Homo sapiens: one gene and its partners. The protein of the gene in region 7 interacts with the protein of the main gene of each other region in a pairwise test. Each region holds a gene or a part of one and is shown on either strand. Other genes may lie near its edges.

The links.
Region 1: the proteins of FKBP8 (region 7) and MYLK interact in binary tests that used the Homo sapiens proteins (3 or more experiments, as listed by UniProt).
Region 2: the proteins of FKBP8 (region 7) and ARL13B interact in binary tests that used the Homo sapiens proteins (3 or more experiments, as listed by UniProt).
Region 3: the proteins of FKBP8 (region 7) and ELOVL4 interact in binary tests that used the Homo sapiens proteins (3 or more experiments, as listed by UniProt).
Region 4: the proteins of FKBP8 (region 7) and TMEM14B interact in binary tests that used the Homo sapiens proteins (3 or more experiments, as listed by UniProt).
Region 5: the proteins of FKBP8 (region 7) and CYB561 interact in binary tests that used the Homo sapiens proteins (3 or more experiments, as listed by UniProt).
Region 6: the proteins of FKBP8 (region 7) and TMX1 interact in binary tests that used the Homo sapiens proteins (3 or more experiments, as listed by UniProt).

Annotation. Positions count from the first base shown.
Region 1 is NC_000003.12:123,702,833-123,706,332, forward strand, and holds part of MYLK (myosin light chain kinase, smooth muscle), read right to left. Parts: intron 1,178-3,500; exon of another isoform or gene 1,034-1,177; intron 1-1,033. UniProt on the Homo sapiens protein: Calcium/calmodulin-dependent myosin light chain kinase implicated in smooth muscle contraction via phosphorylation of myosin light chains (MLC). Also regulates actin-myosin interaction through a non-kinase activity.
Region 2 is NC_000003.12:94,039,155-94,042,654, forward strand, and holds part of ARL13B (ADP-ribosylation factor-like protein 13B), read left to right. Parts: intron 1-725; coding exon 726-834; intron 835-3,500. UniProt on the Homo sapiens protein: Cilium-specific protein required to control the microtubule-based, ciliary axoneme structure. May act by maintaining the association between IFT subcomplexes A and B. Binds GTP but is not able to hydrolyze fit; the GTPase activity remains unclear.
Region 3 is NC_000006.12:79,941,054-79,944,553, forward strand, and holds part of ELOVL4 (very long chain fatty acid elongase 4), read right to left. Parts: intron 1-3,500. UniProt on the Homo sapiens protein: Catalyzes the first and rate-limiting reaction of the four reactions that constitute the long-chain fatty acids elongation cycle.
Region 4 is NC_000006.12:10,754,143-10,757,481, reverse strand, and holds the end of TMEM14B (transmembrane protein 14B), read right to left. Parts: intron 2,341-3,339; coding exon 2,250-2,340; intron 1,016-2,249; coding exon 964-1,015; 3' UTR 501-963; downstream 1-500. UniProt on the Homo sapiens protein: Primate-specific protein involved in cortical expansion and folding in the developing neocortex. May drive neural progenitor proliferation through nuclear translocation of IQGAP1, which in turn promotes G1/S cell cycle transitions.
Region 5 is NC_000017.11:63,439,807-63,443,306, reverse strand, and holds part of CYB561 (transmembrane ascorbate-dependent reductase CYB561), read left to right. Parts: intron 1-2,479; exon of another isoform or gene 2,480-2,580; intron 2,581-3,039; exon of another isoform or gene 3,040-3,107; coding exon of another isoform or gene 3,108-3,115; intron 3,116-3,500. UniProt on the Homo sapiens protein: Transmembrane reductase that uses ascorbate as an electron donor in the cytoplasm and transfers electrons across membranes to reduce monodehydro-L-ascorbate radical in the lumen of secretory vesicles.
Region 6 is NC_000014.9:51,243,247-51,246,746, reverse strand, and holds part of TMX1 (thioredoxin-related transmembrane protein 1 precursor), read right to left. Parts: intron 2,892-3,500; coding exon 2,776-2,891; intron 2,658-2,775; exon of another isoform or gene 2,523-2,657; intron 1,435-2,522; coding exon 1,389-1,434; intron 1-1,388. UniProt on the Homo sapiens protein: Thiredoxin domain-containing protein that participates in various redox reactions through the reversible oxidation of its active center dithiol to a disulfide and catalyze dithiol-disulfide exchange reactions.
Region 7 is NC_000019.10:18,537,074-18,540,573, reverse strand, and holds part of FKBP8 (peptidyl-prolyl cis-trans isomerase FKBP8), read left to right. Parts: intron 1-853; coding exon 854-1,023; intron 1,024-1,114; coding exon 1,115-1,203; intron 1,204-2,137; coding exon 2,138-2,358; intron 2,359-2,800; coding exon 2,801-2,973; intron 2,974-3,500. UniProt on the Homo sapiens protein: Constitutively inactive PPiase, which becomes active when bound to calmodulin and calcium. Seems to act as a chaperone for BCL2, targets it to the mitochondria and modulates its phosphorylation state.

The DNA of each region.
Region 1 (3,500 bases), on a different chromosome or scaffold from region 7:
TATAATACTGAAGGTCAAGGTTAAGTAATTTGCCTAAACACACAGAGCTTGCTAGTGGAGGGAGGGGTTGGGACCTGTGACCCTATGACCTTTGCACTCTACCCTACTGTGCTTATCAGTACAAATCTGGTCTGGGACATGTGTGTGTTCATGCACATATGTAGTTATCAACCATACACATGATGTACACATATACTGGTCTAGCTGGCAGGCACCTGCACCTGGAGGTCTGTGTTTGGGAATATGTGCACATATGAGTTACATCCACCTGGACAGGCATCTGAGCATGCGTTCTTGTGTATTCTGCTGGCGTGTGTGGGTCTCCACCTCACTCTGCCTGGCCTCCCTCCCAGTGGACAGACACTGGTAGCCCATGGCCTGGCCCAGGATTCTCAGGGGCTCTGGGGCGCTGCTCACCCTTGGGTGCTGGCACCCATTTGAAGCAAGGAGAAGCCAATCGTTGCTGTCCTCCAGCCCTCCTCCCGCCTGCTGGGCTCCTCTCCTTTGTCCTTCTCTCCAGTGCCCTCGTGCTGTCCCAGGCTGTGCTGGTGCAGGTGCCTTCCTGACTGCCTTAGCTCTTTCACTCCTCTCTCCTCCCTGGCCATGTATCCCATAGCCTGTCCCCTCCCAGCCACCCTCCTCAATGCTCAGACTGTCAGAGGGCACAGATTCAAGGTGCAGGGAGTCTCAAGTCTGGAGAATTTTGAGTTCAGGTTGTTCCTTTGCTCAACAAACAGCAATTAGAAACCTCATGGGTGCCAGGCCCTGGGAGAACGAAGAGGTCCTCAGTGTGCCCCGAGTTCTCAACACTTAAAAAGGCTTATGGACTTTGGGTGAGCTTGTAGAATAACTGTGTGAGGTCACCCTGCTTCTGCCAGGCTGCTGGCCAGTGTCAGGCCACTCTTTTCCTACCTTTAAGCACAGCCTTGTGGTGCCTGGGTTGACATGGAGCAGGAAGATGAGATGCCCAAGGGCTGTGTTTGCCTGGCAGCCCTTTCAGCATCTCCTCAGCAGAGTTTCCTCCTGTCACCAGTAGAACACAGCCCAGATGCAAACATCAGGAGCAGACACTGCCCAGATGGCGGCTTTACCCCAGCTGGACTCCTCTGAGGCTTTGGTGGTGGACAGCCCTGTGCCGCAAGCTGGAGTAAGCCGATTCTCCCCATGGGGGAAGCAGGTAAGGGCTTCTGTCACTTTCCATGACCTGTGCTCAAGGTGGGGAGCACAGACTCAGACAAGCCTCTCAAGGGCTCCTGTCCAATCCAGCCCCAGGCCTTACCCTGTGGCCCCCAGCAGTCTAAGGGGTCAGAGAAAGGTGGAGGACTTGGGATACAAAGGCTGACGCATTAAGTGGATCACCTGGTGGCAGGGCAATAGCAGTAACTATTCCTACAGCCATACCCTTAAATCTCTGCTGGGCCTTTAAAGCAAACCATGGGTTCATTTGCAGCCTATAAAGTTCATAGTGGCCTCCTGCCTGGGACCCACATGTCAGATCACCTAAGCTGCTGGAACAGGGTCTTGGGGCCATCTTTGACATCTGCACATAACCAGTTACAAAATCAGGGCCGGGGCTGAAGATGAGGCCCCATCCCAGGAGCTGCCACAGAGCATATGGGGCTATCATCCTATAAACTGAACCTTTCACAAAGAGTCCTTTTGCCTTGGCTTACTAAGCTCTGAATAAGAGTTCCACTCTGGTTACAAAGCCTTGGATCCTGTCCCACCCTGAATCATCTACCTCTTGGATGGGTTCTATATGGAAAAATTACTTTAAAGAACTAATTTCGGCCGGGCATGGTGGCTCACACCTGTAATCCCAGCACTTTGGGAGGCTGAGGTGGGCGAATCATGAGGTCAGGAGATTGAGACCATCCTGGCTAACACAGTGAAACCCCGTCTCTACTAAAAATACAAAAAAAAAAAAAAAAAAAAAAATTAGCCGGGCGTGGTGGTAGGCACCTGTAGTCCCAGCTACTCAGGAGGCTGAGGCAGGAGAATGGCGTGAACCCGGGAGGTGGAGCTTGCAGTGAGCCAAGATCGTGCCACTGCACTCCAGCCTGGGCGACAGAGTGAGATTCTGTCAAAAAATAAAAAATAAATAAAAAAGAACTAATTTCCTGGCAAGTGTCAAGTGTTTCAAGTATTCCAGCTGGAATTTTGAGCTGACTTTTTGTCATTTCCCCTTTTGGTACAGTAGACAAGAGCTAGGAAGGGAAGAGAGGCAGAAACTACCCACCCATACCTGCCTCACAATCCTAGCAGGGACAGGCAGGATCTGCCCACCCCTCTACCCCCTGCACACCGGACCCCCGGCTTCCTCCCAGCCATCCAGTCATTCCCCTCGAAAGGCACCCTGCTCTACGTCTAGGTTGCTGGAGGAGTGAGGTCTCTGGCAGGCCTGCCACGTACCCTCAGGAAACTCTCCACTGACTTGCTTCTTCTCAGGTGGGGAAAAAGCCAAGGCCAGGGCAGTGGCCTCCGAAAGGAATGAAGAGGCTGGACTTTGGGGAAGAAAAAGAGGCAAAGGCTGCAGGCTGGAGGCTCCAGTGTGGTTTCCCAGGTCCTTCCAGTTCCCTGTGCACTTGGGAGAAACTCCCCAAGCAGAGCCATAAGGAATGGAAGAGCATCTGATTTAAGTCAAAAGATGAGGGCTTGAACTTGGGCTCTGTTACTTGCCTTTGGATGGCCACAAGCAAGTCCACGACCCTGAGACCTCAGTGTCCCCCGTTATTAAATGACGATGAGGCTGGATAACTTCTGAAGCCCCTTCCTGCTGGGACAGTCTAAATTTTATGACTGTCCCCAGCTGGCCCCAGACAGTCTGCCTGCCGACCTCCTGGTGCACGCCTCCTCTCTGGCCTGGCAAACTTCCCACAGCCCTTTGCTTGGCTCTGCCCCCACCCCACCCTTTCTTGCTCGGCCTACTCAACAGCTAAGCCTTATCACATTTGCCAAGATTCAGCCTTCCTTTTCCATCAAAATCCCCAAACAAGCTCATCTCCTCTAGGATGTCTGGCTTGAGTAATGTAAGTATTATCTCAAAGTGCTACTCCTTCTATACTGACGAGATCATCAGCAGGTATTTTTACACATCATCGGTTTCCATTCTTTGTACTGACCTAGGGGGTAAGCGTGTACCTTCTCCCCATTTTGGAGGCAGAGTGGCCTTCCTGGTAATAACTAGTTCAAGCATAATGCAAAGGCAGTTGATGCATTCTGAGTGTACCGCTAATAATAGTAGGGGGACCAGCAGCTCACAAGCATCCCATCACTTGACCACAACAGACATGTCATTGAGCTCAGCTGAGATTAGCCTTGCCTAAATCAGCAGAACTTTATAGGAGACCCAAAGACTCCTAAGAAATAATGAAACTGCTTTAAAAATAAACGAGCTATTTTTAATAGTTATTAAGTATTGGGGTGGTTCGTTATGCAGCAAAAGATAACTGATTCAGGTATAAAGCACATGGTCACAAAGGACCTAAGGGGATGGGGTA
Region 2 (3,500 bases), on a different chromosome or scaffold from region 7:
TTCCTAGTTTTGTAAGAGAAGACTTAGCCCTTAAGAAAAGAATTAATAAGAATAATTACTATTTGGCTGGGCGCGGTGGCTCACACCTGTAATCCCAGCACTTTGGGAGGCAGAGGCAGGCAGATCACAGGGTCAGGAGATCGAGACCATCCTGGCTAATAGGGTGAAACCCCGTCTCTACTAAAAATACAAAAAATTAGCCAGGCCTGGTGGCGGGCGCCTGTAGTCCCAGCTACTCAGGAGGCTGAGGCAGGAGAATGGCGTGAACCCGGGAGGTGGAGCTTGCAGTGAGCCGAGATGGTGCCAATGCACTCCAGCCTGGGCGAGAATGCAAGACTCCGACTCAAAAAAAAAAAAAAAAAAAAAGAATAATTACTATTTGTTAACACCAGTAAAGAGGACAGCATTGATTTTGGAGGGTAATTAATAAGTTGATCAGTAATACCCTTGGCACATGGAAGAATAATTGCACTGTTGATATTAAGAAGTCACTCATAGGAAATGTCATTTTTATCAGCATTTTTTTAATTGAAATGATTAGTCTTTACATGGGAGGAAGCAGCCTCTTACCTGCATAAGGATTTTTGAAATGCTCTCAGTAATTCAAAACCATGTCCAGATGTTTAAATTACTACATGTAATAGCCTTATACCTATTGCAGTTTTCTTTAACATGGTTCAGCACTTTCTCAAAGGAAATTTCAATTATTTTTCCTCAAACGATAGAAAACAAAATGAACAGGAGCAGGCTGAACTCGATGGAACCAGTGGTCTGGCTGAGTTGGACCCAGAACCAACGAATCCTTTCCAGCCAATAGCATCTGTAATCATTGAGGTATGAATGATGGCAAATGTAATTTTTGTATCTTAAGTTATAAGTTGGAACTTGGAAAAGAAGGTGGAAAGTTGGGAAAGGAGGCAGGGAAACAGATGTGTTTCTTCTGAGAGATTATTTCTATAAGAAATTAAACATGAGAGACTGATTAAAGGTTTACTGCTTTTTCTTACTCTTAAATTACCTTTGAATCTAGTGTGAAAGGGGGAATATGACTTCAGAATTAAATGACAATAAATAAATTTGACTGTAGCAATTATTATAGTTGCTGTGTTGACAAATCTATTCTGTCATTTATTTCATATAGTAATAACATATTTACTCTTATTTACATTTTCTGTGTTTCTGTATTGCTGTTACTGTCCATCTGCAATATTTACTTAGAATGCATTAGGGTACATAAACAATTTTCTATTTTTCCAGGATACTTAAGGATGTTTGAAACTGCAATAAATTCTCCTATATCTGAATATCATTTATTTCCATTTTAAATCAGAAATTTTACCAACATTAATTTGTAGATTTTAATTATGAAGACGTTAAGGGGTTGTGTGTGTGCGCGTCTGTGTTTTTGTTTTCATTTTCTGCTCATGTCCAGAGTTTGCATTGGCTCTGCTTTTATGGCTGGCAGCAGCGATGCCTCTTCTGAGGCATTGCTTCCTAAACCTTAGGCTGACTTCCTGGTCCTACCTGGAAGGTTTTTTTTTTTTTTTGTCTCCATTCTATCAGATATTATATTTGTCAAGTTTTGTTTTATGTTCTTTTAAAAATATTGAGAGAGAAGAGGTCAAGTTGTACTTTTTACTTTGAAACAACAATTATTCTCTGTGTATAATAAGGCTTGCTTTATAAATAATGGCTAATTATTTTATAGTACCATGGGTATAAATTGTGTAGAAGGCTCTAGTGCTTCTCCCAGCACCGTATTTCCCACAATGTATAGAAGTGAATAATAGTGGTGTACGACATAGTATATATCACATATAGAAAGTTCCCAAATTAATAAGTGGCATGGGGAAAGTACACTTAACGCTTTGAAACTACAATTTCAAGAAGATGGCCAGTAAAGAAATAAAAGCAAATTAGCTATAGTTTTTTTTTTTTAACCATACAGATTTTCTCTTTTTTTCCCCACAAAACTTTTTTAGCATGTTTCTTGGTACAGAAGCACCTAACATTTTTTTTTATTATTACTGCAGATAATTAAAATGGTGAGATATTGGAAGGTATTGGTTCCAGAAGAGACAGACAGATCAATGGAACGAATATTAATAAACCTATTTATGTATGAGCATTTTAGTACAAGATAAAGATAACATTTCAAATCTGAGAGAAAAAAATAATAGAACAACTTAATAACCATTTAGAAAAAGGAAAATTATTGAATATTGTATACCCAGTTAAATTCCAAAAGTATCAAAAACTTAAATACGTTTTAAAAAGTGAAAGTCTTCAAGTTACTAGTAGATAATATAGATAAGTCTTTATATGTGCTTGGAGGAGGAAAAAATTTCAAAGCAGGACAAGCAAGCCACAAATCATAAAGGAAAAAGGTGGATAGATCTTATACTACCCAATTTTTAAAGAGCTATTCTACAAAGTTAAAAAGCAAAAATGAAAAGAAGTAAACTCTAGTGAGAAATAGAACACATAGTCTTATGTGACTCTGTGACTAGTCCTAGTGACACGTATGCACAAAAGAACTCTTACAAATTACTATGAAAATAATGAGAATCTAATAGAAAAGTGGGCATTGGGTTACCAAAGGCAGTTTCCTAAAAAAAAATTAAAAATGTCAATAAGTGGCCAGGCACGGTGGCTCACGCCTGTAATCCCAGCACTTTGGGAGGCCGAGGTGGTTGGAGTTCAAGACCAGCCTGGCCAAGACGGTGAAACCCTGTCTCTGCTAAAAATACAAAAAATTAGCCAGGCGTGGCACGAACCTATAATCCCAGCTACTCCGGAGGCTGAGGCAGAGAATTGCTTAAACCTGGAGGGGTGGAGGTTGCAGTGAGCCGAGATCGTGCCACTGCACTCCAGCCTGGGCGACAGAGCGAGACTCCATCTCAAAAAAAATAAAATAAAATAATTCAATAATAGTTCATTTTTGCTGGCAATAAAAATTTTAACTTAAACTCAAATGAAAATAACACTAAGTTAAATAAAAATATGTATTAATACGGCAGAGATGTAAAAGGTCAATCATGATATGTGGTATTGAATATGATGTAGAAAAAAATCACTCTCCCAACCCTTTGCCTGAGGTTCATTGATTCATTTTTTCTGAAGGGAAGTTTGTGACTATATGTGACATTTTTAAATTTGCCTACCCACTGACTCAACAGTTCTACTGTTAGCAATTTAATCTAAAAAAATTAAAAAAAAGCTATTAGGATGATTCTGTTTTTTAAAATAGTGAAAAATTGGAAATACTTTGTTCATTGATACAGAATTGGTATGCTATAAACATTCAAAATAATAATTGATGAAAATAATTGTATCTAACATTTATGTAGCATTTACTATGTGTAAGGCACTGTTCTGAGCACTTTATATATTCATTGGCATGGAAAGAAATGTATATTCTTCAATAAAAACTTCAATTCTTTTTTGTTTAAACAACAAATACATAAGTATATATAGATACATATATTTATGTATGTTTC
Region 3 (3,500 bases), on a different chromosome or scaffold from region 7:
AACAGTTTTGCTGGAAAAAAATTTTATTTACTATAAAGAATGAGGTTTCTGAATCCCTGATAAATGTATATTTATTTGAAATTGCTTTACCTATTCCAAGAATAAAGAAAGTGATATCTATATCTAGACTTTTAGAGTCAGGTAGGACCTTACAGATTACCTAATTTAACCCTCTTAATTTACAGAGAACAATGCTGAGAATTGGGAAGGCAAAGGAACTTGTCCAAACTCTCATAGCAAATCAGCAGCAGACCAGGACTAAAACCTAGGTCATCTAAATCCCAGTCCAGAATTCTTCCCATTCACTATACCACACTGCCCTCCTCACTTCCACACAAGGCAATGCTTCTGCACAGACAATGAAGAGAACAATCATATCTGATTTTATATGTCTTGGAATCTTCATTTTTTATCTGTTTTGTGCTTCTAAATGACTTAATGGCCTGATTTACTCATTAAATTTAGTGAACGGCAACTGAATTAATGACCAACTCATAAAAAATATCATTCTTTTAAAGAACTCTCTGGCCGGGCACAGTGGGTCGTGCCTGTAATCCCAGCACTTTGTGGGGCTGAGGTGGGCAGATCACATGACACCAGGAGTTTAAGAGCAGCCAGGGCAACATGGTGAAATCCCCACTCTATGAAAAACAAAAACAAAAACCTTCTGTAATTTAGTGTGGTCTAAAGCCTTATTCATGTTTAGCAACCACAATATATCATGATTCAAAATTATGCTAGATTAAGAGGGTCATCTCCTGATACATATCATATCAACAAATATATGTGATAATCTCTGATGTTGGAGAGAAAGATACAAAGGAGTGAAGTGGTAAATAATAACGAAAGTTTAAACAGTTTGACACTAGGGTCATAGAAGGAATGGCACAGGAAATACGTGAGTAATTACTAAAGACAATGAGCTCCTGTGAGACAACAACTTGCTCCAGGGTACCATAAACAAGAAAGGCTTTGCAAAGGAGGACTATTGTACTGGGTTCTGGTAAAAGGTATCTGGAGAGGTAAACAGGGAAAAGGTGGGTAAAGGCAAGGGGAATGGTGGGATGAGAAACATAAAGGTGGACATGTACACATTTTACTTAAGGGTCAGTGAGTTATCCCAGTTGGCTAGAGCTGCAGGTCTTTGGGCAGGGGAATACTGAAGGATCAAGCGAGAAAGTTAATGTGGACCTTGGCTTTAAAAGGCCATGTGTTTCCTCCCATCTCCTTTCTGAAATCCAAACCCACATGATTTTAAAATATATATTCTAATAGAAAATAAAACAATAGTACCTTCGTTTGTTAACAGGCAAAATGTCCTGATAATGAAGACGAAAAAAACATCTAAAGTGAAAAAAGATAGACTGTTACACTACTCATTTCGGTGTGCTAATATATGCCTAATTCAGAATAATAAGTGGCTTAACAAATGAAAATACTTACGTTAATAATGTTAAAGCATTTACAGGTGACATTATCCACAGGACTTGAGCAAAAAAATAAGAAAACAAATTGAATTTTTAAAGGATGACCAAGTGCTCTGTGGCTCTTAAGTTTACAAAAGTGCCATCTGATATAATTATCTGCATAATTCTTAAAACTTTGTCTTCCTAAGCCAAAGAATCTAAGTTAAAATAGTTAAAACTGTGTCCTGACACCCGTTTTAGAACCTGCATTGTTTACCCTCCTGGAATTCCATCTGCAATAGGATGTTTTACTTTATGCTATCATTGGGGAATGGATAAGAGCATTAGCTATTAAAGTCTAGCAGTCTACCACCAAAAATCAAACTGTGGTGAAGGAAAAGACAATAAAAACCAAACCAAAACAAAAAACCATAAAATGGCATGGACATCCCAGAGGCTTCAAGGAGCTTATGAGTAAAGGATAATTAGGACGTCACTGAAAACAGTGACCAAGGGAGATCCCATGTTAGGAGCTGGTGATGTTTCTTTCTTTCTTTTTTTTTTTTAATTAGCTGCCTACAACTTGGAATCAGAATGTCTTTTCTCAAAGAAACATTCAAAGAAAACTGCATTACCAGGCTTAGCCAAACAAATAAACCTATTTTAGATAATAACATAGATGAAAAACTAAACATTAACTGTGACGAATAATAAAATTAATGTAAGCATACTGTACAATACTTAAAATACATGCTCCTCTGGGACCTAGCAATCCCTAAGACAAACCTGCTTTTACTTCAGCTTATTTGAGCTGAGTTAAACATCCCCTCCCACTAGCCCCCAGCTTCATCAAACCTGGATGACTCACTGGCCTGACCCTTAAGCACCTTCCCAGTTTCCATGGTTTTCAGTCAAGCTGTTCCCCTTGCCTTTGACACCTTTTGCCCTAGTATGCCTCTCCAAATACTCTGACAGTACTCACATCAACTCCTCATTCAAGGGTAGAGGGAAGTAAACTGTGGTGAAACAGCTAAAATATTCTAAAAACAACTGTATATTCCTTTCACTTAGGAGAAGTAGAGATGAGAAGAGCAGGGAAGGACTTTTCTGATCTTCCCTAGGCCCCAGCTAGTCCTGAGTCTGACAGATCACACTGCCTCCAGACCATGATATCAAGGAAAGGGGAATGACAGTGACCCCCTAGACTTTGCAAGATGCATGAGGGCAGTGACCAAGTGTCCTCCTTTCCTTTCCAGAGCCTAGAACTGTGCCTGTACATGGCAAGTAAATACGGAAAGAAATGGTATCATAAGCCTGGCTTCCACATTTCGTCATCCTACAGCTCTCCTCCCTCTTCCTGTACCACTCATCCCTTCTTTCTGACCCCTCCAAAGTTAATTCAAGGACCCAGCAAGTTATGTTCTAACTGCAACTACCAAGTAGACAATTTTTTTCACCAAAATGCAGGGTACTATATCTGCGAAAAGAGGGCCAATGCCAATCATTACCACCCCCAACCAACAGACAGCACCCATACCCTGTGAACAACAGCTATTTAGAAACAAATGGTCAGAAGATACATGGCCTCACAGGAGACACCTGGCTTTACCGTAAGCATCCTACTAACTCTCTAGGGTGTTTATATGCTAAATGTCAGGTATGCAAAAAAGCTATTAAACATTTATTAAAAGCATGAATAAATGAATAATGTAGATAAGTTGGGTATTCATAGATTGGGGAATATTTAGATTCATCAGTTTAAAAAATGTATATACAACTTTTATTAGATGTATACGTTGAGCCTAGGACTCCAATCCTAATAATTTAAATGTACTCATGAAGTGAAAGAATAGAAGAAAAAAACTAACATGATGACATGGAATACCTACTCTAATACTAACAACTAGTATAAAGTCCTACACCAGCCTATACTTTAACATAAACCAACGCTAATTTCCTCGTTCAAAATGTCTACAAATACAGAGAAATAAAAATTATTTTTGTTGTTTTTCTAAAAGTATAGCTCTTTCAAACTTTCAATTCCAATGTACAAAGTGTTAATACTGTAGTAAAAGTAACATTTTTGTTGTTAAC
Region 4 (3,339 bases), on a different chromosome or scaffold from region 7:
TTGCTACACAGTCCTAAATCTTAGAAATCCTCAGTGGCCATGCTCATTACCCCAGCACTTTGGGAGGCCAAGGAGAGAGAATCGCATGAGACCAGGAGTTTGATAGCAGCCTGAGCAACAGAGCAAGACCCCATCTCTACAAAAAAATAAAATAAATTAGCGAGGTGGTATGCACCAGTAGTACCAGCTATTCAGGAGGCTGAAGTGGGATGACTGAACCCAAGAGTTTGAGGCTACAGTGAGATATGATTGTACCACTGCCCTCCAGCCTAGGTGACAGAGAAAGACCCTGTCTCTTAAAAAACAAACAAAAAAATCCTCAGAGATCATTTTTGAAACAAGCTTCAATGCAATGTACAATCAAATAACTTTCCTTGGTCCTTAAATTACTCAAAATAGGTAATTTCTAAATATCAACAAAATACTTTCAAGTTTCTATATCTAGCAACATCTCATTCTATGAACTAGACCAGCTCTGGCAATGAAGACACCATAGGAAATATTATTTATAGTAAACTTTATTTTCATTGATATTTCACTTAACATAATTTCAAAGTCAGTCTGTGGTCTAAGATGAGCAAAAGAAAAGATATTCTAAATCTCTCAAGAGATTTTTTTTCACACTGTTCCTCTGAGCAGGGAATGGGGTTTCAGGGTTCTCAATGTCAACACCTAACATTTTACCCTTGAGATTTACCTATAGATACAGAAAGAGATAAAATCAATATACAAGAATCGATCTCTATGATGGTCTCAATAAGCTCATGTTACATGCTCACCACCTCTGTAGGGTTATAATGGTAACAACTGATTTTCCACCCCTCCGCCAAATTTGGTGTCTTTTTTTTTTTAGGTAAAATGTCAGATGCAAAAATGCTGCACTTATTTCTCTTAATACATTGAAAATAGTGGAAGATGCAGATTTTTAATCCTTCATGAGTCCAAGCTGGAACATGACTTCTGCTAATCAGATGTCATCAACATACGAACTCCAACTTTGGCGGCCATCAGCAAACTGTTTAAAACAAGTAAGATAGAAAACATCAGGTAAAGGATAGAACAGGCAACTATGTTTTTAAGGAACTAAACTCTGCAGGTTCCTCACAACTGTGTGGGGGAGGAGGTACTAAGGCAAGAGTGGTCAGAGGTAAAATTTCCATCCCTGGGGGAACCAGAGAAAAAGCAAGCCAAGGGACAGTTTCACTGAGGTCTTAAAATAGCACACATGAGCTAGATCCTAATCCAACTGCCAGTAATTTGAAGAGATGAAGAAATGGAGGCAAGAGAAAGCAAGGCCTCCCCACCATCACAGATCTGATTTATGGTAGACTCCAGCCTCTCAGTTTACTGTTCTAGACCTTGCTCCATACTGACTCTTTTGCTTCAGGTATAAAATATTATACTGGCAGCATCACGACTATGATCAGAGTAGAGTATGTAATCTTTCTTGAAAACAGGATTTTAAAAATTCCCCTGCCTTCAGGATGTCTTTATCATACTTAACAAGTGAACTTTTTTTTTTTTTTGAGACAGACTCTCACTCATTGTTGCCCAGGCTGCAGTGCAGCAGCACGATTTCAACTTACTGCAACCTCCGCCTCCCCAGTTCAAGCAAGTCTCCTGCCTCGACCTCCCGAGTAGCTGGGATTACAGGCGTGCACCACCGCACCCACCTAATTTTTGTATTTTTCATAGAGAGGAGTTTCACCATGTTGGCCAGGCTGGTCTCAAACTCCTGACCTCAAGTGATATGCCCGCCATGGCCTCCCACTGTGCTTGGATTACAGGTGTGAGCCACCGTGCCTGGCCTACAACTACATTTTTTAAAAACCACAATTTGGTTTAGGTATTATAATCAAAATTAGAAAACAGGATTCAATCAAAATTTCCTTTTAGCAAAATTTTCTACAAAAGACACCTACACACCTAAGAAATATGGGACCCCCACACATCCTCCGCAAGTCACACAAAAGGCTGCAGTCATAGCTTTGCAATAAAACTTCTGCCACCATATAGGAAGGAGCTAGGACCAGAGAACAAAGCCATCTCCACAGTGAATGGATATACTCATGTCATTTGACATTAAATCAACTATTGTTTTTGAAGCATCTCCTATTAGTGTATAAGTCAAACGTCAGTTGATGCATAGCATCAGATACTCTGAAACAAGTAAGGTTTTGAATGCATAAAGTATTCTGGGCAATAAACTGAACTCTACATGGTAAAGAAGAGTAATAGAATGAAAGTACCTGGCACCTGCAATTAAACCTACAGGCATGAATTTTCCATAGTAGTAGGATCTCATTCCCATAACACCAACAAAAGTAACAGATGTAGCGGCTGAAAAAGATACAAAGAAGGGTCAAAACTCATTAGTCTTCTACGCAGGGGAATCAGAAGTAGACCAAGCCCCACCAATCTCTCAAGGCTCACGCCTCATCCTATGCTTATTCCTCCTTCCCCAAGTAGGGGAGATTACTAGCTGCCCACATCCTATGGGTCCAAATACCAATACTGGCCAAATAGGGCCCTTCACAGCCTGGGCCCTACCTGCCCTTCCAGCCTCATCTCTTACCACTTGTCTTCTGCAAAACCCACACTTTAGCCATCAATGTGTTAGTTTTCTCCAAAATGCTGTTGTTTCTCATGCCCTGCAGATGCTATCGCCCTGCAGACGCTATTTCCTCTACCCTGCATGCAATTCCCACTGGGTATCTGTCAAAGCACCTACTACATGTCAAGCGCTGTGCTAGGAGCTGGAGAATACAAAAGTAATCGTAACTGTCTTTGCCCTTTTACAATGCTTCAGGTCTGATGGGACAAGACTTTAAACAATCACACAAAGAAAAACAAGGTACAATGTGTGCTTCAGGTATAATTGATGCTACACAAAAAAGCTCAACAGGGGGATCAACCTATTCAGGGAGATCATGCTAGGCTTTTAGCCAAGGAAGTGAAGACTGACTGAGATCTGAAATTACAGCAGGCGTTAATAAGCTGAAGGATGGGAATGCCCTTTCCAGGCAGAGGGGACAGTATATGCAGAGGCCCTGTGGTGACAGGGAGCATGGCACATTCACCCTAAAAGGGCAGCGTGGCACAGAAGTCAAGATGCAGTTTGTGAGTAAGAGGCGCCAGACCACATAGAGCCTTGAAGGCCATACTAAGGATTGGGTTTTCATCATAAGAGCAATGAGAAGCTATTAAAGGATACTAAGCAGAGGGATGCATAAAAAGAGTTGCATTATTATTATTATTTTTTGAGACAGAGTCTCACTCTGCAACACACGCTGGAGTGCAGTGGCATGATCTCAGCTCACTACAACCTCTACCTCCCAG
Region 5 (3,500 bases), on a different chromosome or scaffold from region 7:
CAGGGCCTGGTGTCTCTGCATGCACCAGGGCTTAGTGCCATGCTGGTACAAGCGTGGGGAGGATGCAGGAGGACTGGCATGGGATGGGGAGCACTGCCTGGGAAGCCCCTTCTTCCTGGGGCTACTGGGGTGCTAAGAAAGTACCCTAATAGCTCACACCACACTTTGCTTTCTCCTTCATCACATGCTAGGACGCTCTAGGGCAATTGAGCTGTTTTCCCCTTCACCCATCAAGAAGAGATATCGGCCTTTCCGCAGTCACAGTCTTTCCTAACTCAATTCAAACTCTGCTGTTGATAAGGAGGGCTGTAGCCAGCCCAGGCTGCCCGCTTCCCAGCCTCCCCTGCTCCGCCTTCCGCCCCCGAGGCTGTGCACCATGTGCAGTGTCTGGTCCCCAATAATGAGATTAGTCTTGGTTGCCTTTTAATAAAACGCAGTGGGCACCGGGAGGGAGAGCGATGCTTGGCTCAGTGAAGATCTGCGGGTCATGCTGTCCCTAATGCGCTGATTGCATTAAGTGGATTCTGGCTGCAGGTAGGGTGAGTGGGTGGGGACGAGGGTGACTCTCACAGCTCTAAGATCCAGAAACTGCCAGAGATCTGTCACCCTCATCCTGAGCTGTCACAGAGGAAGGCAAGTGACTGTGTGAGGGGCTACGTGAGCTCCCTCTGGTTGCAAGGTTCTGGTCTGCAGGGCAGTGGAGCCCTTGGGGGTGGGGAGTGGCAGCTTCCAGGCCTTGAAGCTGCTGCCCACAGTTCTGCTCTGAGAACACAGAGGGCCCAAGAACAGCCGGTGTCCCAGGGCTGCCCAGTGAGGAGGGAAGAGCGAGAGAGTATTCTTGCTGTCAAGACTGGGAAATGAGGGCCACGATTCAAAGCCTTGCTTCCTAGGGAGAAATCTCACCCAATGTCCAGGTTTGCAAATGCAGCAGACACATTTGTGGGTGGGTCAGATTCTGTCCAGAGATACCAGAATGTCTATCCCTGTACACCCCCACCTCTGGCATGGGACAGCCCTTCCCTGCACACAAATGGGTTATCAATTATGTCCAATGAATGGCCTCACGAGAGTCCTGTTGCGGAAGGGATCTTCCGCTTATCTCCTGTAAAGCACAGAGCCACGCTCAGAACCTACGGACTGTGGTCGCCTGCAGGCCAGCCATGGGCTTTCCTTTCATCCTTACACTTAGATTTTGAAGCCTCGCCTTTGAATCAGAAGCAGGCTGCTGTCATTCCAGAGGCCGCTGTTCATCTCTGGCTTCCTCCCAGATGCCCAGGTGCCCCGGGTGCCTGGGCTGCCTAGGCCAGGGCACCCGCCTTAGGAGCAAATGGAAATGCATCTTCCTCGGCTTGTTTGCCCTCCTGTAACCCCTTCCCTCTTGCCTTCGGTCAGGGCCTGCTGTCTTGCACGCACCAGTGCTTAGTGCCATGGTGGAACCGAGGCGGGGAGGACGCAGGAGGACTGGCACAGGAGGGGGGGCACCGCCCGGGAGCTTCCCCTGCGTCAAAGCAGCTTCCTCAGTGAGCTCCAACACAGACCCTTGCTGGCCTCAGTCTCTGGAAAGACTGACAGCACCACCCTAGTTCCTGGGCCTTGGAAAGGCCAAAGCCACGAGCAGGCAGCCACTGTTCGGCAGGAGAGCTAGAGATGCTATTGCCCACAGACATCAAAGCAGGGGTGCCGTCTTCCGTGTGCATGCTGGGACGGGTCTTGGAGGCCCAGATTAGCTCCTGGCTTGAACTTGTACCACCCTTACCTGAAAATTGGGTCTGTACCAAAGCTCATCTGCACGCCCCTTTAGGGCAGGGACCAGGCCCCCTCTGTGTGGCCCTAGCACCTGGCCAAGTGCAGGTGGCTGCGGGTTGAGTTGAGCTGCTATTTGCTGATGGGAATTTGGGGGCCTGTCGCTTGTCCTCTTTGAGCCTCCATTTCCTGGCCTGTCAAATTGGGGCAATGCTCCTGTTATCCACACAGTGTCATTTAAGGGTGACATTAGAGATGGCATGAAGTGCCCAGCACAGAGCAGGTGCTCACAGGCTGTTGGGTCCCCACCCTACTGACACACCAAGCACACGTCTGCCCTGCCATGGTGGGGAGCAAACAATGTTATGGTTCCGACTCCCCGGGAGGCCAGGCCGGGCATTTCACTGTAGGATGTTGAAGCCGCAGGCAGTCGTCGCTGCGAGAAGAGAGCCTGGCTCTGATGTCCACTGTCTTCCAGGGAGCCTGGTGGGAAGGAAGGAGTGGGCAGCGGCCCCTCGCTCTGCGGGCCTCTCCTGCCCTTTGTACTCCACGAGGTGTGAGGAAGTTGCCGGGTCACCCAGCAGAGGGAGAGGTGATGTCCCCTCTGTTCTTCCTAATTTGTAGCTAATCAGATTCTGCCTGCAGCCAGGCTCTCTGGGGATGAATCTAATAAAGGAGGCGGCGACCTGGAGAGGAGGACAGACAACAAGTGACCAGGGGGGACAGCACTTCTTTCAGTACATTTTCCTGTTAGACTCGGGGTATTAGAGACCCAAAGATACCCAAGGAGGAGTGAGAGCGTCCCTGCCTTCGAGGAGCAGACAGGGCACCGCGAGGGTAAGGAGGCTCCGGGAGAGCCTGGGGACAGAGTGATCTGCGCACCGCGGTGCCTGAGGAGTGGAGGCAGGGGTGTGGGCCCACAGCAGGGAGCCAGGCTGGGCCATGTCCTTGGATTCTGTGAGCCCAGGCGTCTCCTCTAGAGGGCCTAGCAGGAACAGTGGGGGCTGCAGATGGAAACGGGCAGGATCATGCCATGCAGTTGGCATTTCACTGGCACTCGGGGGCACTTACGCAGGGGACAGCATGATGTTGGGAGCTGGCTTTGTCCCTGGCATGTCTGTCACGTTGAAGAGGGAGAAGCTGCAGGCCCTGACTTGGGTGGGGCAGTGAGGATGCTCAGGAGGGAAGTGAGGGGAGGGGTGCCAGCATGCGGCGGCCTGGGCAGCCTTCTGTGGAGGAGCTGAGGTGTCACCTGGGCCCGGAAGAAGGGCAGCCCTGCTAGCTAGTGGGGAGGGCATGAGAGAACTTGGCGACGATGGGAGAGAAGGTGACTTGGGACGAGCTGGGTTTGAAGCGTCTGTGGGATGTCCAGGTAGAGATGAGTAGTGAACCGTCAGAAATGGGGCTTGAATTTGGGGTGGCGGGGACAGAACTGATACCCGTGTAGGTGACAGATAAGGACAGAGGCAGGAGTTCCAAAAATAGGATTTATTGTTGGCTGGGGCTTCTGGAATCCCGTATTCCCGTCCACCCTGGGAATGTGGATTGGAGCTATGTTTCTGGGAGATGATTTGATGGAATGTGTCAGAAGTCTAAAACAGAACCTAGCCCTTGTTTCAGGATTCCCTGCAGAGAAGTTTGCAGATGACCACATCCTGTTGTTTATTTGGTGGAAAACTGAAATCGAAAGCTAGCTAAATGCTGAACAATGGGAACTAGTTGGCTAAAAAATGGCCGTGCAATGCAAGAGTGTGAGG
Region 6 (3,500 bases), on a different chromosome or scaffold from region 7:
TGCTTGGCACATAGTAATTATTAGCTGTTAAGCTATAACTTAAAATTTTAAGGCATTTTTCTAGTACTTTTGGCTATAATAGCATCACCTCAGACACCCTGCTTTAAATCACTGGAGGCATCTGGTATGGTGCTTCCCTTCCTCTCATTTCAGTGACTATTTAGTGAGCTTTGCAGCCTTCCTTAGATCCACCTCCTCCTTCCCATTCCCAATGTAGAAAGTTCTGTCAGAGTCACAAATGTTCTCTTGGCTCCAACATCTTTAAGTGCAAAAACTCATCAGCTCCCTACTAGGGACCTGTTAAGTAGGGTTAAGGGACCCTTTATCCACTCAGAGGTAAAAACCACGAGGAAGCCCCCCACCCCAAAACACAAAGTTTTTGTGAAGTGTCATTTGAGCTATTATTTGAAGCATAGGTAAGATTTCGACAGGCAGGAAACAGGAGAAAGGATATGGTAAACAATTTTGACTAAAAGAAAAAGGGCAGGAAATTCCAAATAAGGTCACAGGGCACTAAGAAGTGAAAAGCAAAGGGAGAGACTGAAGGGGCACGTGGGGAAAAGGACTGAATGAGAAGGGCAGGACAGAAGCACTTATGGAGACAGCGAACAGAAATTTATATAGATGTAAAGGGAGTAGGGGTGAATTTTAAAACCATAAAAAAAAGAAAAAAGGGCAAAGAAAAGCAAGCTATAAATACAAAGAATTGTCAACTTATTTTCAGTACCTCCTGGTATTTAACCTACCAGCTACATGATGTTGGGGTACACAGACTTGAGATTTCATACCCTCAATTTAGAAGATAAAGTCAAACTAATAGACCTGACACTGAAGACTACATAATCTTGCTCATTCTGTTTTATTACCCAACTGTCACCTATTACTCTACCCAAGGCTGTACAACAGCACTTTCTTAGCTACTTTTTGGACATAACATGTTCCTGTTAATGACTGTTTATGAGATTGTCCTCACAATAAAATGCTTACGCTCCACTCTTAAAATTCTACTTCCAAGGTTTCATTTAAACCCCATATTCTCTGGGAACCAATCCAGGTAACTGTGATTTCTCCTTTATCCAATTACCTACAGGACTCACCACTACTTTGGATGCATAATGACTTAACACGCTGAACAGGATCACACCATTTCACAAGAACATCACTTTCCAAAACAACTGTAAATCTTTGAGAACAGAGACTGTTTCACACATCACTCAACTACCTAAAGGCACCTAGGATAACACTAAGCAAAACAAGCCCTCTAAAATACCTGCTGAATATAATGAGATTACCTCAGCTCTTCCAGCATGATCCAAGCCAGAGGCCTACTACTTCTGATTACACTATAATGCATCCTTCTCCATAATTTAGAATCTTCAAATACTTACTGATAAATAGTAGGAAGAGCAGTTATGATAAACCGTCCACTCAGTCCTACAAATAAAGAACACACAGCAGGTTTTACATAGGCCAATCACTGACTACTTAAAACGTGACTTTGAATTATTTAAATACATACTAATAGGAAAGAATATGAAATTATACCTAATAGTTGAGCTTCGTAATACATAATTTAAAAATGAATTATGTACTTAAAGCAACTTTAAAAAACACAATACTGCACATTATCTCAGTTAAAAAGTATGTAGAACTAGAGTACTGAATACATTTTTAAATAAAAACACTTCAACATTTATATCACTGTCAAAATTAAGACTACTAGTAATAAGAGCACCTTGTGCTCATGGGAGAGCACAAGGTAATAGGGTCTTAGATCTAAAATCCAATGGAATTGTACTTGACATTCAACAAACAAAGGCAGTTTATGGTGCTGCTAAAAATGGAAAATACTATGAATCTTTCATGAGACAGGCAAAAATAATAGCAGCTAACATTTATTGTTAGCCATGTGTCAAGCACTGATATTACAGAGAATTGACCTGTGCCTCAGTTTTCTTATCTGTGAAATGGGGACATTACATATTTCACGGGGTTGTATAAGGATTAAATAATAAACACAAGATATTTGGAAGAGTGCTATAATAGGCAAGCGCTCGATAAATATTACCTATTATTACCATTTGGGATGGGACAGCCAAGAATCCAAGGGTAGTGTGACTACCGAGAACGGTAAGATGAGATTGGTCTGTGGAAGGAACCTCCTTAAGGGCAGGACCTGCCACTTGTCCAGGGACCAAGTCAGGAGTGCACTTGACCTCACAACCACGAGGGCTTTATATTTAGAAGCCCACATCCTCAAATCATAGGTACTAAATTTAAAACTCAATTTCAGAGATTCAGGTCTTCTTTTGTCAGGGAACGTGACCTTGACTCCAGAAAAACACTCAACCACATGCTCCTTATTCTGAAGCCTGGTATGGATGCAAATGTGGCTTGGCCAATGTTCACCTGAACCACAGTGTCCTAGGACTTCTCAAAGGCATCTTACATACTAGTCTGGGGCCTGGGATGCAAAGAACAACAAATCAGAGGCAGTTATGTGGGCAAGAATAAAAAGAGGGTAATGTCTTCAAGAACCCTTAAAGCAACACATTCAAGAAATGAGGTGTATACACAACCAGGGAATCTCCATTTTGCAACCATTGCACACTGAGCCCCCAGCAGGGAGGTGGACAAGTCAGGTTAACTAGCTGCAGACTGTTAGGTTTTCAAAACCTAAAGAAAGGTAGAATTAAGACTATGCAATGTAGAAAAAAGGATAAATATATCAACCCAAACAGCAAAGAAACAAAACTAACCAAAGACTTACAGTACCTGGCTGCTCTGTGACATCTACTTTCGCAATATTAACCTCAAGATCTTCTCCCCATTCAGCAAAACTTTCCCATTCCGGTTGAAGATTTTGACAAGCAGGGCACCACGGGGCATAACTAAGAAATACAGATTTTTTTTTAAAAAAAGTTAAGCACTTTAGTATGACCATTTATCTTGGGATAAAAAATTTAAATGTATAATTTATGAAGAATATTTCATATGAAAACACTGAAGATGATAAGGTGGTTAATTTTATGCAGATGAAAAACTTTTAAGGGTAGATCTAACAATCCGGAAATCAAGAATGATGAACTGATGATGCTAATCAAATAAAATTCTGAGAATAAGACACAGGATTTTTTCACATGCAAAACAGCTCTTTAGAAAACTTTTGCATTTCTCTATTAACGGTGTGGCCACCAGAAAGCTCAAGACCAAAGTTAGAGCTTACCAATTTTAATAATTTATAATGCAGAGTCACAAATGCAAGGTGTTGGAAAAACAGAAGTGTCCTGGGCTGTGGTGAATAAGAAAGCACATATTCCATCTTAAAGTGGCAACCATTATTAAGTAGGATTGCCACTAAGGATGCTGGCACACTAAGGCTGGCTATTCATATTTAAAAGAAGATGGAGAGCTGCATTTTTATATGAGAATGTTACCTCAAAAAATAACCCACACACAAATACTAAGCAGGCCAAACAAAACTCTTGGCCAGTTAGGTC
Region 7 (3,500 bases):
TTAGTGGAGACAGGGTCTCACCATGTTGACCAGGCTGGTCTCAAACTCCTAACCTCAAGTGATCCTCCTGCCTCAGCCTTCCAAAGTGCTGGGGTTACAGGTGTGAGCCACCATGCCTGGTCATTTTTTATTTTTTGTAGAGATGGGGTCTCACTATGTTGCCCAGGCTGGTCTCAAACTCCTGGGTTTAAACAGTCCTCTCATTTCAGCCTCCCAAAGTTCTGGGATTACAGGCATGAGCCACCATGTGTGTCCTTTGCTTAACTTATAAATTCATCCCACTTGGTGCTGTGGTGGGGACACTGTGTCACAGGGGCTCTGCTAACCAAAGGTCCCATGAGCACCTCATTTCATGGCTGGGTAAACCGAGGCCCAAACATCTCAGGGCAAGGATTTCAGCCTGAGGGCTGTTTGTCCTCTCTGAGCTTTGGTTTTCTTTCTTTTTGAGGAGGGTGGGGAGACTGGGTTCTTGCCATTTTGCCCAGACGCTGGGCTGAACTTGTGATTCTCCCACATTGGCCTCTCAAATAGATGGAAACTCGGCAAGTCTCAGTTTTCTTAAAAAAAAAAAACAAAAAAACAAAAAAACCAGACCAACCATTGTTCACTGAGCTGGTCTCTAGCACCAGCACTGTCACCCTGAAGTCTGTCCCATCCTGCCCAGTGTCCTGCACGTGGGGTTCCCCACTCTGGTGGCAGAGTGGCCATTGGAAGTTTGGTTTGTGCCCCAGTGTTGGGCCAGCCCCCTCTGGACAGCTAGTGGGCAGAGCTGAGGGTAGGAGTGGGGGCTCAGGGGAGCGGGTGCCTGTTTGAGCTGCCAGGTGACAGGCTGCATGTCCCTGGACCCTGGCAGGGAACGGGCTGTTGAGGAAGAAGACGCTGGTCCCAGGGCCGCCAGGTTCGAGCCGCCCGGTCAAGGGCCAGGTGGTCACCGTACATCTGCAGACGTCGCTGGAGAATGGCACACGGGTGCAGGAGGAGCCGGAGCTGGTGTTCACTCTGGGTGACTGTGACGTCATCCAGGTGCGGGCTGGGGCGGGACAGGGCAGGGGCGAGGGGCGTGCCTTGCTGGGTCTGAGTCTGCCTGACAGCTGGCTATCCCCACACACCCCAGGCCCTGGATCTCAGTGTCCCACTCATGGACGTGGGGGAGACGGCCATGGTCACTGCTGACTCCAAGTACTGCTACGGCCCCCAAGGCAGGTGAGAGTCAGCCACCCTTAGGTCTCTGCAGGTCTCAGGAGGGGGATGGGTGGAGTGGGTGTACCCCTCGGCTCACCCCATCTACTTGCCCATTTTATAGACAAGAAACTGAGGCTGGGTGAGGTGGCTCACACCTGAAATCCCAGCACTTTGGGAGGTTGAGGTAGGAGGATTGCTTGAGACCTGGAGTTCCAGACCAGCCTAAGCAATATAGACCGCATCTCTATACAAAAAAATTTAAAAATTAGCTGGGTGTGGGCCGGGCGTGGTGGCTTACGCCTGTAATCCCAGCACTTTGGGAGGCCAAGGCGGGTGGATCATGAGGTCAGGAGATCAAGGCCATCCTGGCTAGCACGGTGAAACCCCGTCTCTACTAAAAATACAAAAAATTAGCCAGGCGTGGTGGTGGGTGCCTGTAGTCCCAGCTACTCTGGAGGTTGAGGCAGGAAAATGGCGTGAACCCGGGAGGCGGAGCTTGCAGTGAACCGAGATTGCACCACTGCACTCCAGCCTGGGCAAGAGAGCAAGACTGTCTCAAAAAAAAAAAAAAAAAAAAAAAAAAGCTGGGTGTGGTGCACACCTGTAGTCCCAGCTACTGAGGAGGCTCAGGCAGGAGGATCACTTGAGCCCACGTTTTTGAGGCTGCAGTGAGCCAAGATTGCACCACTGCACTCCAGCCCGGGCAACAGAGTGAGAACCTGTCTCTTAATAAAAAGGAGGAAAACCGAGGCTTAGGGAGGGGAACTCGTTCGTCAAGTCCCGCAGCTCCAAGGCGGCAAGTCACTTCCCCTGCACTTTACTGAGGAGGGAATGATGGAGGGCAGAGGGGAGACAGATCGGGGGCTTGAGCCAAGCTCACTCCTTCCTAGCCAGCCCAGCGGGTTTAGGGGTCACCAGGTCTGAGTGCTGCCCCTGCCTGCTCCCACCCAACTAGCAGGAGCCCATACATCCCCCCGCACGCGGCCCTGTGCCTGGAGGTGACCCTGAAGACGGCTGTGGACGGGCCTGACCTGGAGATGCTCACGGGGCAGGAGCGCGTGGCCCTGGCCAACCGGAAGCGGGAGTGCGGCAACGCCCACTACCAGCGGGCGGACTTCGTCCTGGCCGCCAACTCCTACGACCTCGCCATCAAGGCTATCACCTCCAGCGCCAAAGGTGACCGCCTGGGTCAGATCTCCACCATCTCCCCTGCAAAGGTGTCCACTCCGTGCCAGAAACTTCCAGCCCCAGAGAGCCTCAGACTCAGAATATTCTAGAATAGCCCAGAATATGGGTAGATCCCCAACTGCCCCTAAGCTAGGGCCTGTTACAGACTCGTGGTATATCCCAGACCAGTGGAGTGTTGTAGAATGCAAGTGGATATGGGGATGGGGTGACCATAGACAGGGCCAGTTCACATGTACCACAGGCTAGGCCCTCGCTTGCTTAAGTCTCCATCTTGTAGCTTCCTCAGGAGAGCCCCAGGAAAGCGTGGCCCTTGGTCCGGGGTTAAAATTGGGGAAACTGAGGCCAGAGAGGCAGCCTCCGCAGAGGGGTGGGTGCCGGGGTGTCTGGTGGCATGGTGACGGCTGCCGTGGCGGGCACTGTCTCCCAATAGTGGACATGACGTTCGAGGAGGAGGCACAGCTCCTGCAGTTGAAGGTGAAGTGTCTGAACAACCTGGCGGCCTCGCAGCTGAAGCTCGACCACTACCGCGCAGCCCTGCGCTCCTGCAGCCTTGTGCTGGAGCACCAGCCAGACAACATCAAGGCTCTCTTCCGCAAGGGCAAGGTAGGCCACACCGGGGTGCCAGGCCGGGTCACTCAGCCTGGGGTATACGGGGTGGTCCCCAACCCTGCATTTGAGAAAGGCATAGGTATATAAGCCAGCTGAGCTCTGTGGGGTGCAGGTGGAGAAACTGAGGCCCAGACGGGTGCAGGAGTGTGGCCTGGTCACAACAATTCATTGGCTGAGGCCAGAATTTGATCCTCGAGTCTTGGGTCCCCAACCTTTGGCCCAGTGTTTTTTGTTTGTTTGTTTGTTTGTTTCTTGAGACAGAGTCTCACTCTGTCACCCAGGCTGGAGTGCAGTGGTGTGATCTCAGCTCACCACCGCAACCTCCTCCTCCTGGGTTCAAGCGATTGTCCTGCCTCAACCTCCCAAGTAGCTGGGACTACAGGTGCGAGCCACCACACCCAGTTAATTTTTGTATTTTTAGTAGAGATGTGGTTAGCCATATTGGCCAGGCTGGTCTCGAACTCCTGACCTCAAGTGATCTGCCCGCCTCAGTCTCCCCATGTGCTGAGATTACAGGCCTG